Regions from separate parts of the Homo sapiens genome. Here region 1 is linked to region 2. Evidence: fine-mapped expression QTL. Tissue or cell type: whole blood. Region 2 holds a variant in brackets; the other region holds the start of a gene. All regions are shown on one strand. Distances are between the middles of the regions.

Region 1 (8,100 bases), 58 kb after region 2:
ACAGAGACCTCAGATCCCCACAATTCCAAATTTTAGATTAAAAAGATGCAATTAGTTGGGAGCTCTCTGGGTTTCCACAGAGTCAAGGATGGAGCAAGACCTTCTCAGGAAGATAGTCTGTGAATATTAAGGGCCAACTAACCCCTGCCCCCAGCTAACCCTTGCCCCCTGAAGGACAGGGCCAAGTTTTGCCACTTTAATTTGGGCAAATAATTATTCTTTTCCCTCATTATTCTCACTTGCAGAGAAGGTTGAGCTGAACGATATTCATAGGTTCATTAGGAATCTGTTTCCAATGCTCAGAAACAGTCTTCATACTTGCTAACACTGATAGCTTATTTCTGATTACAAAAATAATACTTCCTTATTATAGAAATTTTAGAAAAGAGCAAAATATAAAAAAGAAAAAATGCAATCCCATATGATCCTATACCCAGAGGAAATAATTGTTAACCCTTTGGAAACTTTACAAGCATTTTTGCTTGTTTTGTTTTTGTTGGGGTTTTTTGCATTCACACCACTTTTTAAACAAAATTGGGATCATACAGTCTTCACAACTTTGTATTCTGTCGTTATACTGTGAGCATTTTCCACAGTCATCAACTATTCTTCACAAATATAATTGTAATCACTGCATAGTACTCTACCAAGAATATATACCATGATTACTGAGCATTTAGGTTATCCACCTAGTATAAATAACACTGCCATGAACATCCTAGCCTAGTGCCATAAGTATATATTCCTGCATCTCCACTTCCTTAGTATCAATTCCTCAAGGTAGAATTACAAGGTCAACAAACTGATTTTTTTTTTTTTTTTAGCAAGACAGAGTCTCGCTCTGTCGCTCAGGCTGGAGTGCAGTGGAACGATCTCAGCTCACTGCAACTTCCATCTGCCAGATTCAAGGGATTCTCCTGCCTATCTGCCTCCCAAGTAGCTGGGATCATAGGCACGCACCACTATGCCCGGCTAATTTTTGTATTTTTAGTAGAGACAGTGTTTCGCCATGTTGGCCAGGCTGGTCTGGAACTCCTGACCTCAAGTGATCCACCTGCCTCAGCCTCCCAAAGTGCTCGGATTACAGGCGTGAGCCACCGCACCCTGCCAACAAATTGATATTTTTAAAGTATCTTGACATGTATTGCCATATTAATTTCCAGAAAGACACAACAAATCCACTGATTTTCCTGAGCCAAGTGAAAGCTGAAGTTCTGAAAGAGCTGGAGTATTAGAATGCAGGACAGTGGTCCTATCTCTCCTCCTCTTCCCTGGTCTTAAAAGTTAACTGTTCAGCAAAAGAAGGGACAGAATTCCAAGTCAAAAGATAGGGGTCTACAGCCTAGCACCTAGCGCCGAGGTCTGGCTGGCTTTGGGAACCTGAAGCAAGCCTTGGTTCTCCTCATCTGTAAAATGGGTATAGTGTGATTAGCTCTGCTCTGCTGACTACCCCAAGCAGTGTCCATGCTCACTGAAAATGTGTTTGAGAAAGTTCGATGCCTTGTGTTAAAGGGCACTATTGTTATCCTTCTCATAACCTGAGGAGCTTAGGAAGTGGGGTATTCTTTCTGAAAGCCCAAGGGCTTCCCTTCCTGGCTTTTAGCCATCATGCCCAGGACAAGTGCCACTGGTTCTGAGGTGACAGAAAAGCACCTTCCGGAAGGAATTTAGTAGGGTCTGAGGGCCCGGGAGGACCCAGCAGTGTCTTCCAAAGGTCAGAGACAGCATTGGAAGATCCAAGACAGGAATGGCAGGCTCCGAATGGGGAGACTGGGCCTAGGGCCACCCTGAGGGTGCTGAGTGGATCTGGGGAGGTGAAGAGCAAAGACATTCCTAGTAAATGTCCCTCTGTTTCAAGGCTCCCAGACCCTCTTTTCTAGGGCTCTGACTGGATATCTGGTCTTTGGGAAAACCAGAAATCAAACTAATTCAATGGATGCAAAAACCCAACGGCTGCAAAGGACCCCAGGAACCAGCAGCTCTGACCCTTTCTTCCAGGCTGCTGTAATCCTGTCCTGAATTTTTAAAACCCTCCCATTGGAAATGCAACTAGTGCTCCCAGCCTGGTCTCTCCAGCCCTAGGGCCGATGGAAAGGAGACCCATCGAGGTGCCTCCCTGGAGACACGGACGACCCAAGCTTCCCTCCTCACTCCCCACTCCCCTATCGACCTGGCAAACATCCTTTCCCATCTCTTCAGGCTCGCCTAAGACCATGGCCTGAGGGGACTCCAGTGACGTTCCCAGTGCCAGCAGACAGAACTGCGCAGACCCCGCGGGACGCCATCCTCCATCACCATCATCGCCGGCTGCCCTCCACCCCCAGCCCACTCCACGGCCAGAGGTGCATCTCCGGCCTCCAGACACGCACAACAGGTGGCGTCTGCCCGCCCTCCCCAACCACACCTCCCTGGCCCTCCACCTGCGCCCCAGTCCTCCAGCAGCGCTCGGCCGGGGAGCCTACCTTTGAGGTTCTGGGGGTGGCCCCGCGGCGCGCGGCTCGGGTTTCCTCGGGGCAGCGAGGGGATACTGGAGAAGTTGTTACCCATGGCATCCGGCCCCAGGAGGTTCGGCGCTCGCGGGTGGGGGCGAGGCCGGGCAGGCGCTGAGGTGCGGTGTGCGAGTGTGCGCGCGCGGGTGCGCGCCACCGGGGGAGGGCCCTGCTGGGGCTGCAGCCGGGGGCGGGCGGGCAGCTCCTCAGCTTCCTTTCTCTGGACTTCGCGGTCCTTGGCGGGTTCCGCCCGCCACGGGTGTCCTGGCGCAGGCTGGGCTACCTGCCTCCCATGCCCCGTGGCGGGAGCGGGGGCCACAAGCAGGGCCCTGGGCCGGGGCCGGGGACGCCCGGGGCTCCCCGCTTGCTCCCCGGGACGCTAGGGTTCCGGCTGGGGGTGGGCGGCGCGGCGGCTCCGGCGCGCTCCCCCGGGGCCATAGAGTCAGGGTCGCTGGCGTGGGCGTTCGGCGGCTCCGAGGCAGGCTCGGTTACCGCCCCGCGGAGACGGCCGCGGCGGCGATGTGCGTGGCTCCCTCCCGCCCGCGGGTCTGCGTGGAGCGGGGCTCGGCGGAGCGCGGGGCGTTCTGGGCGCTCCGACGCAGCTGGTGTCCCCCGACCGCCGCGGTCCCGCCCGCGCCGGGTCCCTCCTGCGACCGCCGCCCCCGCCCCCCGCCCCGGCAGTCTCCAGGATTCCCTCGCTCCGGTTGTTATGGTGACAGCTGCGCCGGTGAATGAGCGTCTTAGTGACACGCGCGCGCCCGCTAGGCCAGATGTGGCCCCGGGGCGCGCCGCGTTCCCGTAGCCGCAAGCTCTCGGCGGCGCGGGTCGGGGTAAGACATCAGGCGAGTATGGTGGCACCCGGGGCTGGCCTTATTCCCAGCACGGAAACATGGAACTTGCACTTGAAAACAAGGGGAGCAGGGCCGCGAGAACGCCGAGCTCCCCGGATGCGGGGGCGGGCGAGCCAGCACTAATGTTCGGTTTCCCTAGCTCCAGGTACCGGGCCTGGCGCAGAGTGGAGAGCCCAGGGAAACATGTAAATGAGCGAGCGGATGCTTGGATAAAGTAATTGAGATTAGAACCCCGGCACTTGACCCTCCGTTCTCAGCCAGGCTAGGGGCACTAGGGCAAGGGTTCAGAGCAGGAACCCCGGGCAGTCTCACTGATGCACAGATGCCACTGAGGGCCTTTGAATGCCCGCGGACCAGACTCACAAGCCTGGAGCTCTGGCCAAGCTGAGGGAACAGATCTCCGGGACAGATCATCAGAAGACCACCAGCTCTGAACTGAGTGGTTCTGTTAGCTATAACAAGGTGGGGGAGAGGAGCCTCTGCAGCCTATGGCAGTCAAAGAAGGCTTCCTGGAGGAAGGGGGTTTCAGCAAGGGCCCTGCTCATGTGGCTAGTGCCTTCCTGTAGCTCAACACTGCACCAAGAAGCCTTCAGGAAGGGAAACAGAAGTCATTCTTCTCCTTCCTGGACCCGGGGCATCTCTCCTGGTCTATCAGGGATGGAAGATGTTCCAAGGTTCCCCCCAGGGAATCAGACTTCCTGCTCCTCTAAGTCATCTCTAGCTCCCTGCTCTGGCTTCAGCAACTCAGATCCAGAGTCCAGTGAAGACATGGGTGGGCAGGGGGACATCTCATGTATCCTTTTCTGTAATAAAGGTTCTTCCCCCAAGTCTCCATTTGGCAGCTCCTCATTATCTAGGCACAATTCGTGTCCTGACATTCCCTGACTGCCCCAACTAAAGGACCCCCTCCACTGTCAGTCACTTTCCACAATATTCCATTTTATTTTCATCATAGCTTTTATATGGAACTTGTTTACAAGTAGCCTTTCCTCGTTTATCTTCTGCCTCCCTGCTAGAACATAAGCTCTGTGAGGGGAGAGCACAGGTCAGTCGTGTTCACCAGGGTGTCCTTACCCACTGGGGGAATGCCTGGCATGTGACAGATTCTCAGAAAATAATTGTGGAATGCATGCTTCCCACTGTGGGCCAGGAGGCTCCACTGAGATCCCTGGGGGCAGAGCCTCCTGAACCACCCTTTATTTTCCTCTCCTACTCTCCTCTCTCCATCCCCATTCCAGGCATTCTACCCTTAAATGTCTGGGACTCCAGGCAAGCTAGAAATATCTGTGACAGCCACTGTCTCTCTGGAATCTGGAGGGAAAGGCAGCCCCGAACCCGGCCTCCAGCCTCCCAGATGCCCAGGATCACGTGTGCAGGCAGCTGCAGATGGCCACAGCAGGTCAGGGATGGCTGTCTTATTTATGGGCAGTATCTTCCCAAGGCTCACTCCCAGCTAATGACTCATGCATCAGAAATCCACAGGCTCTTAATGGCAACACACTCACACATGTGCTAACACACCGCTACACTATCTCACACACTCACACCTATACAAGCACACACACTTATATTCCCCCTGAAATCTGCCGGAATGAAGTCACTGTGAGTGGCCACTAGAATCAGGCCTTTCACAAGTTAGAACAAATATGAGGACTCTGCATAGTTGAGACTCATCCTGCTAGAGTGTGTTTGAAGTACAAGGGCCTAGCTAGGATTTACAGACGGTGGCTCCAGGGAAGCCTGGTGTGGGCAGGGGAATGGGGGAGGGGATGAGGCCCCAAAGGTAGAGCACAGCAGGGATGTCTTGAACTGCTGACCTCAGGTGATCCACCTGCCTCGGACTCCCAAAGTACTGGGATTACAGGCATGAGCCACCGCGCCTGACAAAGGGATGTCACAGGCCCCACATGGCCTAGACCTGGGGCTATGGGCAAAGCAGGGGAGAGAGGAAGACGTCAAAGGGAAGGAGGGAAGTGAAGGCCAGAGGCGGATGCTCACCTGAGTCCAGAGGCAGCCCAGGTTCTGCAGTTCAGGGCAGCGTGATCCCAGGGAGTCCCAAAGGAAGGTGAGAGGCGTCAGGGACAAAGGCAGGGAACTGAGGGTTGAGGAGCTGATGGGAGTATCAATAGGGCTGGGATAGGATGAGGTAGCCAAGGCATCCCTGGCGCAAAATTGAAGAAGGCGCCAACTCTCAAGTTCATGCAGATACCAAGCTTGCACTTGCGCGAGCCTGGGAATTAGGTCCTCTTATATTTCACGCCCTAGGCCCCTCTCTACCTTCACCCTAGTACTTCAGGGAGCTCTGTACTGGAAGAGGGGACACCACTGTTAGAGTCAACTAGGTCTCTGGCCAGGAAGGGACCTAGAGGAGGTTGGTGTGGCTGCATAGGACTCAGAGAAGTTGAGCGTGGCCCTTCTGAGGAGTCCTGTGCCCCAGCAACTCCTCCCTGGCAGGGACTTAGGGTAGACCCAGCTCAGAGGGTTAAAGAAGGCCAGCAGTCTCCTTACCCCCAGACCTTGGGCAGAACTCAGAGGCCTTCCTGCCATCCTTCCCCAAGGCAGCTCATAGGGGTGGGGTGCCTGGGTGGTGGCTCTGATCCAGAAGACCCTTCCCAGACCCATCCTGGAAGGGAAGAGGAAGAAGGAAACTGCCAGGGAGACTGGGGCTGATGAAGTCACTGTTTTGATGGCTTCAGGGGAAGCTATTAATACCCACAAGGTGATGCTCCAGCACCAGTCACCGTGGCAACACCCACACACCCAGCAGTGCAGATTCTGCGGGCAGTGCCTGAGGGGGTGGGTGTCAGTGCACACGTGTGCACTTTCGCGAACACCTGTGTCCTTGTATGTGCATGCGTAGGTGTTGTGAGTGCACACACAGGCATGCAGGAGAGGGAGGCCCCAGGCAGGGACCTGAGGAAGCTTCCTTCAACAGCAGCTCCACTCCCACCTTCCCTTCCTTCCCTGTTGCTCTCTTCTTGCTGATTTCTCTTTTTTTTTTTTTTATACAGAGTCTTGCCCAGTGGGAGCACAGTGGCACGATCTCAGCTCACTGCAATCTTGCAACCTCCACCTTCCAGGTTCAAGCAATTCTCCAACCTCAGCTTCCCGAGTAGCTGGGACTACAGGCACACACCATCATGTCCAGCTAATTTTTTTTCCTTCTTTTTTTTTTTTTTTTTTTGAGACGGAGTCTCGCTGTGTCACCCAGGCTGGAGTGCAGTGGCGCGATCTCAGCTCACTGCAAACTCCGCCCCCTGGGTTCACGCCATTCTCCTGCCTCAGCCTCCTGAGTAGCTGGGAATACAGGTGCCTGCCACTACGCCCGGCTAATTTTTTGCATATTTGGTGGAGATGGGGTTTCACCGTGTTAGCCAGGATGGTCTCAATCTCCTTACCTCGTGATCCACCCGCCTCGGCCTCCCAAAGTGCTGGGATTACAGGCATGAGCCACCGTGCCCAGCCAATTTTTGTATTTTTAATTGAGATGGGGTTTCACCGTGTTGGCCAGGTTGGTCCCTAACTCCTGACCTCAAGTGATCCGCCCGCCTCAGCCTCCCAAAGTGCTGGGATTACAGGAGTGAGCCACCGCACCTGGCCCTTGCTGGTTTCTTTCACTCTCTACCCCCTTCCCACCCCCTCTCGTCTTTCCCCCTGCCCTTCCTTCTCTGCTTCTTCCCACCCTGGTCACTTTCTCTCCTTGCAACCTCTGTTCTTCCCACCCTGGCTGTCCGCTCCTGCCTGGTTCGCCTCTCTCTACCTCCCTTCCTCTTTCTCTCTCTCCATAGCTTCCAGATCCATTCAAGTCTTGAAGAGTTACCGCGTTGATAAAATAATAGCATATTTAACTGAGAGTCTACTCCCTTCCCTGAGCCTCTGGATACTGAGTTCAGAACCAACCAGAGTGATGACCTTTCCTCAGGCAGACAAAAGTGGGGCGCCTCTAGGCCAAGCTGGACTCCCCTGAATTGAGACCACCCTAGTCAATGGCATGACACCTCCCTCCAGGCAGAGAAATTAACCTTAAAATGGGAAACAGCCACAACTATCCCTGGCTACCACAGGTAGCACCCTCCCATTCCCCAAGTCCCAGCCCATTGTTTCATTTTGTTTGGGTTTTGTTTATTTGTTTGTTTGTTTGAGACAGAGTCTAACTCTATCACCCAGGCTGGAGTGCAGTGGCATGATCTCAGCTCACTGCAACCTCTCCTCCTGGGTTCAAGCAATTCTCGTGCCTCAGCCTCCTGAGTAGCTGGGATTGCAGGTGCGTGCCATCACGGTCAGCTAATTTTTGTATTTTTAGAAGAGACAGGATTTTGCCATGTTGGCCAGGCTGGTCTTGAACTCCTGACCTCAATTGATCTGCCCACCTTGGCCTCCCAAAGTGCTGGGATTACAGGCGTGAGCCACTGCACTCCGCCTGGTTTTGGTATTTAGAGCTGAGGGTCTCACTCTGTCACCAGGCTGGAATGCAGAGGCGTGATCATAGCTCACTGCAACCTCGACCTCCTGGGCTCAAACGATGCTCCCACCTCAATCTCGAGTAGCTGGGACTACAGGCATGCGCCACCACACCTGACTAATTTTTTATTTATTTGTGTTTTGTAAGAGATGAGAGCTCAGTTTGTTGCTCAGGCTGGTCTTGAACTCCTGGCTTCAGGTCCCGACTAGGCCACCCAAAGCTCTGGGATTATAGGCATGTGCCACCATGTCCACCCAGCCACCAGCCCATAGTTAATCAGACTATCAGAAAAGCTGTC
Region 2 (8,100 bases):
GCCAGCCGGCCACACGCGCACGCAGCACGCACACCCCTCCGGCCGCCGCCTCCCCGCTCCCACCCACTCCAGCCTCCCCACCTCCCGCGCTGGTACAGCCGATGGGATCTGTCATGTTTATTTACATAAGGAGGAGGAGACTGGAGGCTTCCTGAAATAGCAGCGAGCTCCAGAAAGCGAGCAGAGGCGCGCACACGCACACACATCCCCATCACACACAGCCCCATCTCAGGGATGTAGTGACACACACAGCCCTCCCTGAACGCCCAGGCCGACAGCCATTCATTCACTAGCCTCATGCACCTACTACATGCAGAGGTCCTGCTAGGTGAGAGGGGACCCCCTGGGAAGCAAAACAGACATCGTCCCTGCCCTCAAGAGGTTCACAATCAAGCTGATGGAGCTGTTAACCAAGTGCTAACACCGTTTCTGTCTTCTTCCAGGCTCTGTTCCAAGGGCTTTGCAAGTATTAACTCCTTTGGTCCTCACAGGCTGAATGATGAGGTCAGTATTACAGTCATTATCAACAGATCAACAGGTACCATCTCTAAGATGATGATGATGGTCTTACAGATGAGAAAACTGAGACAAAGAGAGGCTGCTCACCTAAAAGGTGGCAAGGCTGGAATGCAAACCCAGGCAGTGCAGCACCAGAATCCAGGCTTTTCCCCCCCACACCAACCTATCCCTTTAACCATGCACATACACACACACCACACACCCCAACACAGACCTGCACTATTCTTCTGCATCATGTCACACAAATGTGCATATACATGGGCTCATAAGCACTTGGGAGCATTCACCACTGAGCGCACTCAGCCATCTACTGACCACCAGACATGTACTCACATGGTTACATGCACACCTCTCAATGTCCACAGTCAACATACGCCTGCTTCCACAGACTCGCAAAGTTTCTAGAGAAATCTTAAGGTGGACACTGGCACCCCACACTCAGGGAAGAGGGAAAGGTGGGAACAGAGGGGGAAGAGGGAGGCTGGGATGGCAGGCCCCTCCAGCCCTGGGCAGGCATGCCGGGAGCCCAGATCATCATCAAGAGAGCAGCTGCCATGCAATGAGCATGCACCGTGCACCAGGAACTGTGTGGGTGGCAGTGGCTATGATGATATCTGTTTTACAGAGAAGAAAGTGGAGGTTCTGAGAGGCTAAGGAGCTTGCGTGAGGTTACCCAGCAGGTCACAGGCAGGACCAGGACTCAGGCCATGTCTGAGGGACAATGTCACCATCCAACACAAGCTCAGGGGCCTCTACCAGGACAACAGGACAGCACCATCCTCCCTGGCCCTGGCCTGGACACCAGCCCCTGTCCTCAAGGTCTGGGATCTTGGACCCCAGGGAAAGGGCTGGGTGGGAAGAGAAAGCCAGCGGGCAGGTGGGAGGACAGAGGGGTAGGGGCTGAGGAAGGGGCCACGGGAAAGGTGGAGGCTGTCCCACAGCAGATGGAACTCAGAGGCCTGGGCCCTGTAAGGGACTGGACTGGGTCCTGAGCCCGCAGCTCAAGACCCTGCTGCTCCCACTTCTGAGTGGGTCTGGGGAAGCGGTTAGGAGGGACATTCAGGCCTGACCTAGAGTCATCAGCAGAGGGCTGGGCGGGATCTGGGGGAGAGCAAGCCCAGTCGGCCGATGCTCCCCTGAGCCAGAGGCATGCCCACGACTTCCGGGAGAAGCCACGACACCCGAGTCCGCACAAGGCAGCCCACTTTCCACAGGCACATACCGGCTCATAGCTGTGCAGTCACACGTACACACACGCACACACTTCCTGGCACACATACCCAGTTCCCATGGGGGCGGGAAGCTAAGTCAGTCTGACAAGGAGAAAGTAAGCCAAACTCCTTTTGTCGGATAATGATCATAATAACAGCAAACACGAGGTCTTACTGCATGATCCACACTGCCCTGAGCGTGTGACGCATTTAACTTGCTCAATCCTCACGACAACCCTAAGAGATCAGTGTATGTGTATGCCCATTTTACAGATGAGGAAATTGAGGCCAAAAGAAGATGCTTTGGAGGCTGTTCCTGTAGCAGCAGAGTCACCCTCCACACCCTGCCTGCCTTTTAACACACTCAGCTGGCCCCTTGCCCACCAATCCCTCGCACATGCCAGCCTGGCCTTCCTATGGCCCCACACCCAGACATCAGCCTCCCTCTCACCTTGGTTCCTGCCTTCTCCTCACTTGGAATGCCCCCTTCCCATCACCCAGCACTGGGAACACTTCTTCTGGGAAGCCTCCCTAGGGCCCTAGGTAAGAGTAAGTCCCTGTTCTTGGCACTTATATTTCCTCTGAGCTCCTGAGCTGGGCATCTCCTAACACTTACCCTACTCGGTCCTATACAGAGAGAGCCATGGCCTGGCTGGGGCCCTATCTGCTTGCCCCAGCTTCTCCTGGGTGCACCTCAACCATTTAATTCAACTCTACCCACATTTATTGATCCCCTACTATGTGTCAGACACTAAGGATGCAAGGGTGGCCCTCAGTGGCAGGTCCTAGCTCTCGCGGACTTCCAGTCCAGAAGGAAACAGACATTTATCCAGTAGTCTCACTAAGGAGTATATCATCACAACCTGAGAAAAAGGGTCTGAAAGAAAGGAGCAAGGTTCTGGGAGGCTCAGGACAGGCTTTCCTGAAAAGCAACAGTGAAGGCAAGATCTGAAGGCTAATGGCCCTGTGCTGTGGAGGTGGCTTAGGGGAGAGAGTGAGTACAACATAGGCAAAGGCCCTGTGGCTGGAGAGAGCTGGTGTGTTCCAGAAGCAAGGTTGGTATGGAGCAGGGTGAGCAGGAGGAGCCTCAGGAAACGCTCCATTGCCGAGCCAGGATGGGTCAGGGATACACCAGGAGGGTCTTGAGGAGAAGGGCGAAGACTCTGGCCTTCTTCCTGAGAGCAATAGGGAAGTCCTGCAGCAGGGAGGCAACAGACCAGACCCACATTTCAGAAAGTCACTGTCCTATCTGGTTGTGAAGGGTGAGGGAGGAGGCAGGAGGCTCAAGGGGAGGGAGCAGCAGCAGCAACATCCCGCATCCTGCACCCCACAGGGTGAGCCTTGCCTGACTTAGCCTCACTCCCCTCGGGCTTCACATCACTCCTGCCCCTGCCCGGAGCAGGCACTCAGAAAACATCTCACAAACAGACCTGAAATCATGTAATTTTCAGACACAGGACTGTGGGAAAGCAGCCAAGTGGTAAGCAAGCAGGGATGGGGCAGGTTTGGGGCTCCACGAGCTGGAAGTCCTTCAGATGAGCAGCAGCCCCAACTCTGGCCACTTGAGTGAAACAGAACAGAGAACTGGGAGGTGGCCCGAGTGGCCCCCAGGCCT[T/C]TGACACTGCAGTCTAAAAGGGTTTTCCCACAGACGTATGAGCCTGTTTCCCACAATCACTTCCCCAAATAGGATGTGGCAATCAATGTCCTGTGTCTGAGGCTTCCCTCTCCTGTCACTTCCTCAGGCAGTGTCCAGGACCTCTAGAGGGAGAGGCAGCCCCGGGATATGGCAGAAGAGCTGCACCCCTTCTCTGTTTTATTCACTGGGGCATCCCATAAAATTTCATTTGGGGCCGGGCACAGTGGCTTACACCTGTAATCCCAGCACTTTGGGAGGCTGAGACGGGTGGATCACTTGAGGTCAGGAGTTCAAGACCAGCCTTGCCAACATGGTGAAACCCCATCTCTACCAAAAATATAAAAAGTTAGCCAGGCGTGGTGGCACACGCCTGTAATCCCAGCTACTGGGGAGGCTGAGGCAGGAGAATCGTGTGAACCCAGGAGGTGGAGGTTGCAGTGAGCCAAGATTGTGCCACTGCAGTCCAGCCTGGGCGACAGAGCGAGACTCCATCTCAAAAAAAAAAAAAAAAAAAAAAATTCATTTGACCAAAGGATTCTGTTACTAAAAGGGTGAGAAAATCACTAACATACATCATTCATTCACTTATTCATTCATCAACCATTCACTGAGTGCCCACTATACACCAACTGGTGAGCAGGACCCAATGCCCACCCTGCAGAAGCCAGGGGTGTAAAACGGGCATGGACGGGGTAACAGGCAGTTCCAGATCCCAGCAGAAGCCAGGCAGGGATTGAGGAATCAGGTTCTTTCAGCTCTGGCTAAATGATCTGTGTTCCATTCTATAGCCGCACTTTGGAAACGATGTGAAAGGGGAATGGAGAGGCTATAAGTAAATATATAGCAGAAGCTATAAATGCTACCATTTATTGATCGCTTACTGTGTGCCAGGCACTGTGCTAAGTATCTTATGTATCAGCCAATCCCAAAACTTCCCTTCAGGAGTTATAATCACCCCCATTTTCGGGCTATAAAACTGAGGCTTAGAGAGGTTATTCTGAAGGCAAGACAAACGAGGCTTCAAACCCAGACCTGCCTGACATCAAAACTCATGCTCCATCCAGGAAAGGGCAACGGGCAGGGGCCCCTCTTGCTTAGAGGAGAGAAGACAAGGGGACAGTGGACCGTCTCCTTAAGGAAGCAGAAGGGTTCTGTATGGCAGCAGAGCCTAGACGTTTTCCAGAAGACAGAAGGTGACATTCCAGGGATGAAGCCTAAATGCAGGTGGAGAACAGGCAGTAAGGCTGGACTTCTCATCCGCTAACAGGTGACCCAGACAGACACTGGAGATGTCATCCTGGAAATTGTGAAGAACACAGACCCATATATGACCTGGGTGGGGACTTAATACCTCAAAGCCTGCAGGCAGGAAGCAGGGCTGGCAGTGCCCCTGGGGGCCTGGTCTGACAGAATCCCCAGCTGCATCTGTCCTCTCATGCCATCTAGGGAACCTTAGGCCCCTTGGCTCTCTGAACCCATTCAGCTCCCAAGGCCCTCCCCACTACTATAGCTGTCCCTCTTTTCCCTGCCATCTCCTGTCCCCTGACCCCTTTCAGACAGCTCCTCTTCCCTTGGGTGCCATCTTGGTTTCCATGATGGTCTACCTAGCTCAAGGCTTTCCTCACCAAGTCCTCTCTCATCCAGGTTCCCCAAGGCCTAGCACCTCATTCCCAGCCTAAACCTGCCCTCTCAGAACTCAAAGTCTAAGGCAGAGCCAGCAACTCCAGAATAAAACATGGAACAAATTCACTGGGGAATAGAAACCATCACAGTCACAGTCACCAAGCTCTCTAATGGGGAAGAGCCTCCAGAGAGCACTGGGGCCAGCCCCTACCTTCAAGCAGGCAAAGAAGTTCTGGGCCCATTTTACAGGTGTAGCAAAGAAGGCCCAATAAATGATAGAGACTTTGCCAAGGCCACACAGTGGGTGGAAGGCAAGGAGGACTGGGACCCAGGAGTAATGTCTTCTGCTGCTATGCCTAATATGACATATAAATCCAGGCATCAGGAGGTATAGAAGACAACACTGGACAAGGGAGGGGGTAACTTCTTTTTATGAAGTAGGGGGAAGTGACTAGGGTCTGGGGAGGCCAGGAAGAGGAGGTGACCCTGCTGTGGAGGAGCTGGGAGGCAGCCCCTTGCTGCTATAGTGTTTCCTTCATCAAGAACAAGGGATAATTTGATTGAGTTGATGAGCCGCCTCATCAGCATTTGAGGCTTATGGCCATCCTGCCAGGGCCCCATCCTCTCTACTCATTAGGCTGGGCCTGGCAGTAGAGAATAGGAAGCAGGGAACCCCAGCTGAAAGCTTCCTTCTATGCCCAGAGCCAGGACAAGAGTGGAGGCTGCTGCCTCGAGTCTGGAAGAGTGAGAGATGAGGAGGGAGAGGAGAGCAAAAGTACTCAGAGATGGAGAGTGCAAGCCAAGTGCTGCAGAGAAACTGGAGCCAGGGAGCCCAGAGGGCGTCCTCGGGGGTTGGGACAGGTGCCCCAGCCGTGACAGCTGCCAGCCGCCCAGGAGGATGGGAACACAACAGGTGCAGAGGAGGGGTGGAGACTGAAAGGGAATCTGAGCAAACAGAACCTGGATGGAGTTGAGGTCCCTCCCTGCCAAGGCCCACTGCCAAGCAGCCCTTTCTCGGCCTCTCCAAGACACAAACACACCTGCTCGTGCTCCCCAGTTCCAGGCCTCAGGGCCAGCATGGCCAGCGTAGACTGGACAGAAGGATCACCATCCATGCCAGGCAGAAAGGATGGAACAAGGAAGAAACCAGGTTTCTATTCCCAGGACAGAGTGTGCCAGACAAAGCCCACACCCACTGAGTCCCTAGCTGGAGGCAAACATTTGCCTATGATAAGATCTGTGTCACAGGTCAGGAAGGGTGGATGGATGTGCCCACCCCACCCACATGGAGGGTGGGAGCTCTGGTCTTCAGGTTGGACAGGCAAGCTACTGAGCTTCTCTGAGGCTCCACCATCTCTTCTCCATGGTGGAGATCACATGGCCCAGAAACTTGTGAGAACTGAATAACATAACACCTGTGACGGCCGCTGCCTGGCTCCATCCATAACAGCAACGCTTGAGAGTCAGAGAACTCGGGAATCCACGTAGAACTGGAAGGACTAAAGTCTCTGTCCCAGCCTTGGAGAAGAGTGACTTGGGATGCAGGATATGCATATAGCACTAAGAATACAGCCAGGCGTGGTGGCTCACACCTGTAATCCCAGCACTTTGGGAGGCCGAGGCGGGCAGATCACCTGAGGTCAGGAGTTCGAGACCATCCTGGCCAACATGATGAAACCCTGTCTCTACTAAAAATACAAAAATTAGCCAGGCGTGGTGGCACACCCCTGTAATCCCAGCTGCTCGGGAGGCCGAGGCAGGAGAATCAATTGAACCCGGGAGGTGGAGGTTGCAGTGAGCCGAGATTGTGCCATTGCACTCCAGCCTGGGTGACAAGAGTGAAAACTATCTCAAAAAAAAAGAAAAATACATATTACCCCAAGGAGGAGAAATAGAAGACCTGCTTTAATAAGAAACATTTACTCGGTACCCGCTTACTCTGCATCAGGCACATTCTAAGCTTTGCATGTATGATTGCATGGGTGCCTCACATGCAAATGCCATTTCAGAGCACTGGGTAGCAGTCAGTTCTTCTAAGGAAGTAGATTAAACAGTCCCTTATCACCTGGTTAGTGCTGCATTTTTGTTCAGGAATAGAATGAATTTTAAACTGGAAGCTAGCCTTTGTCCCAGCAATCACAAGTGATAAATTAGCAGGGTCTGAATACATAAGATTTGCTCCCTACACCAGAACCTGGATGGGGAGGGTGAGGAAGGGCAGGCAACGAGACTTTATGGGGAGAAGAGACGCAGAGAAATGAGGAGACCCAGGGTGTCGCAGGAGACAGGATGAGCGCGGGATGTGCTGGAACAAGACATGGGCCTCGTCCATCCGAGATGCGGAAACACACTCTGCTGATCCCTGATGGGCCTGCCTGGATTATGAGAAAAGCTGGCAGCTGATAACAGGAGGTTAAATCCCTCCTCCACAGGCAGAGATCCTCCTCAATCCATCCCTCCCTTCACCTCCACCCCACGCACACACTCACACTCACATTCACATATACAACTTTAGCCCCACGGCTCAGCCTACGCTCCTGGTGCCCACTCCTTCTTGTGTCAGGCCCCCAGCTAGCTGAAGCCACCCCAAAGCTGGGAGGCCCCCCTCCTTCCTCTGGGGATTCTGCTTCCTCTGGCTCTTGCCTGCTTCCTGCCTCTCCCAGGTCCAGCTTACAGAGGGATGGCCAAGCCCAGGACCAGCTGACTTGGCCTCCACTTCTGCTCCCATGCCCTGGCCCTGCCCCTGCCTGCTACCCCTCCTGGGGCCTCTGACTCCAACCTTTGGGCTCAGATACTGGGTGTCAGTAGCTACAACAAAGTGACAGTACAGGACCCCACAGGGGCTCAGGCCCTTGGCTGGGGTACTCCCAGTATGGCCACTGGCAGCTGGATCCCAGTGCTGTGACACAGCAAATACTACTCAGTGCCACCAGTGTTGTCTACACTAGGGGCTTCACAGTAGAGGTGGCAATTAAGAGTAGGCTCCAGAGTCAAACTTCCCGGGTTCAAACCTTGGTTCTAACATCTACTAAGTGTCCATTTCCTCTTCTGAAAAATTGGGTTGATAGTAATAGTGCCTAGCTCCTACGGCTACTGGGTAGATGAAATGAG

What was found. PIP is the estimated chance that this variant, and not a neighbour inherited with it, causes the effect.
Region 1: NEURL1 starts here. The variant in region 2 is fine-mapped to the expression of NEURL1 in whole blood (TOPMed, PIP above 0.99). The same link has a PIP of 0.9 or more in monocytes.

What each region holds. Positions count from the first base shown.
Region 1 is chr10:103,488,835-103,496,934 of GRCh38, reverse strand. NEURL1 (neuralized E3 ubiquitin protein ligase 1) reads right to left here and starts at 3,230. Exons shown (of 6, transcript NM_004210.5): 1 at 2,463-3,230. The coding sequence starts at 2,547. It overlaps NEURL1-AS1 (NEURL1 antisense RNA 1), which reads left to right. Exons shown (of 4, transcript NR_120675.1): 3 at 2,200-2,374. RefSeq lists silencers at 2,552-2,651, 2,732-2,861, 2,872-3,021, 6,251-6,320 and an enhancer at 2,336-2,885.
Region 2 is chr10:103,547,082-103,555,181 of GRCh38, reverse strand. All of the region lies in intron 1 of NEURL1 (neuralized E3 ubiquitin protein ligase 1), which reads right to left. Among named protein-coding and RNA genes, the nearest start is that of NEURL1-AS1, 34 kb to the right of the region's middle. The variant T/C (reference allele first, on the strand shown) is at 3,346.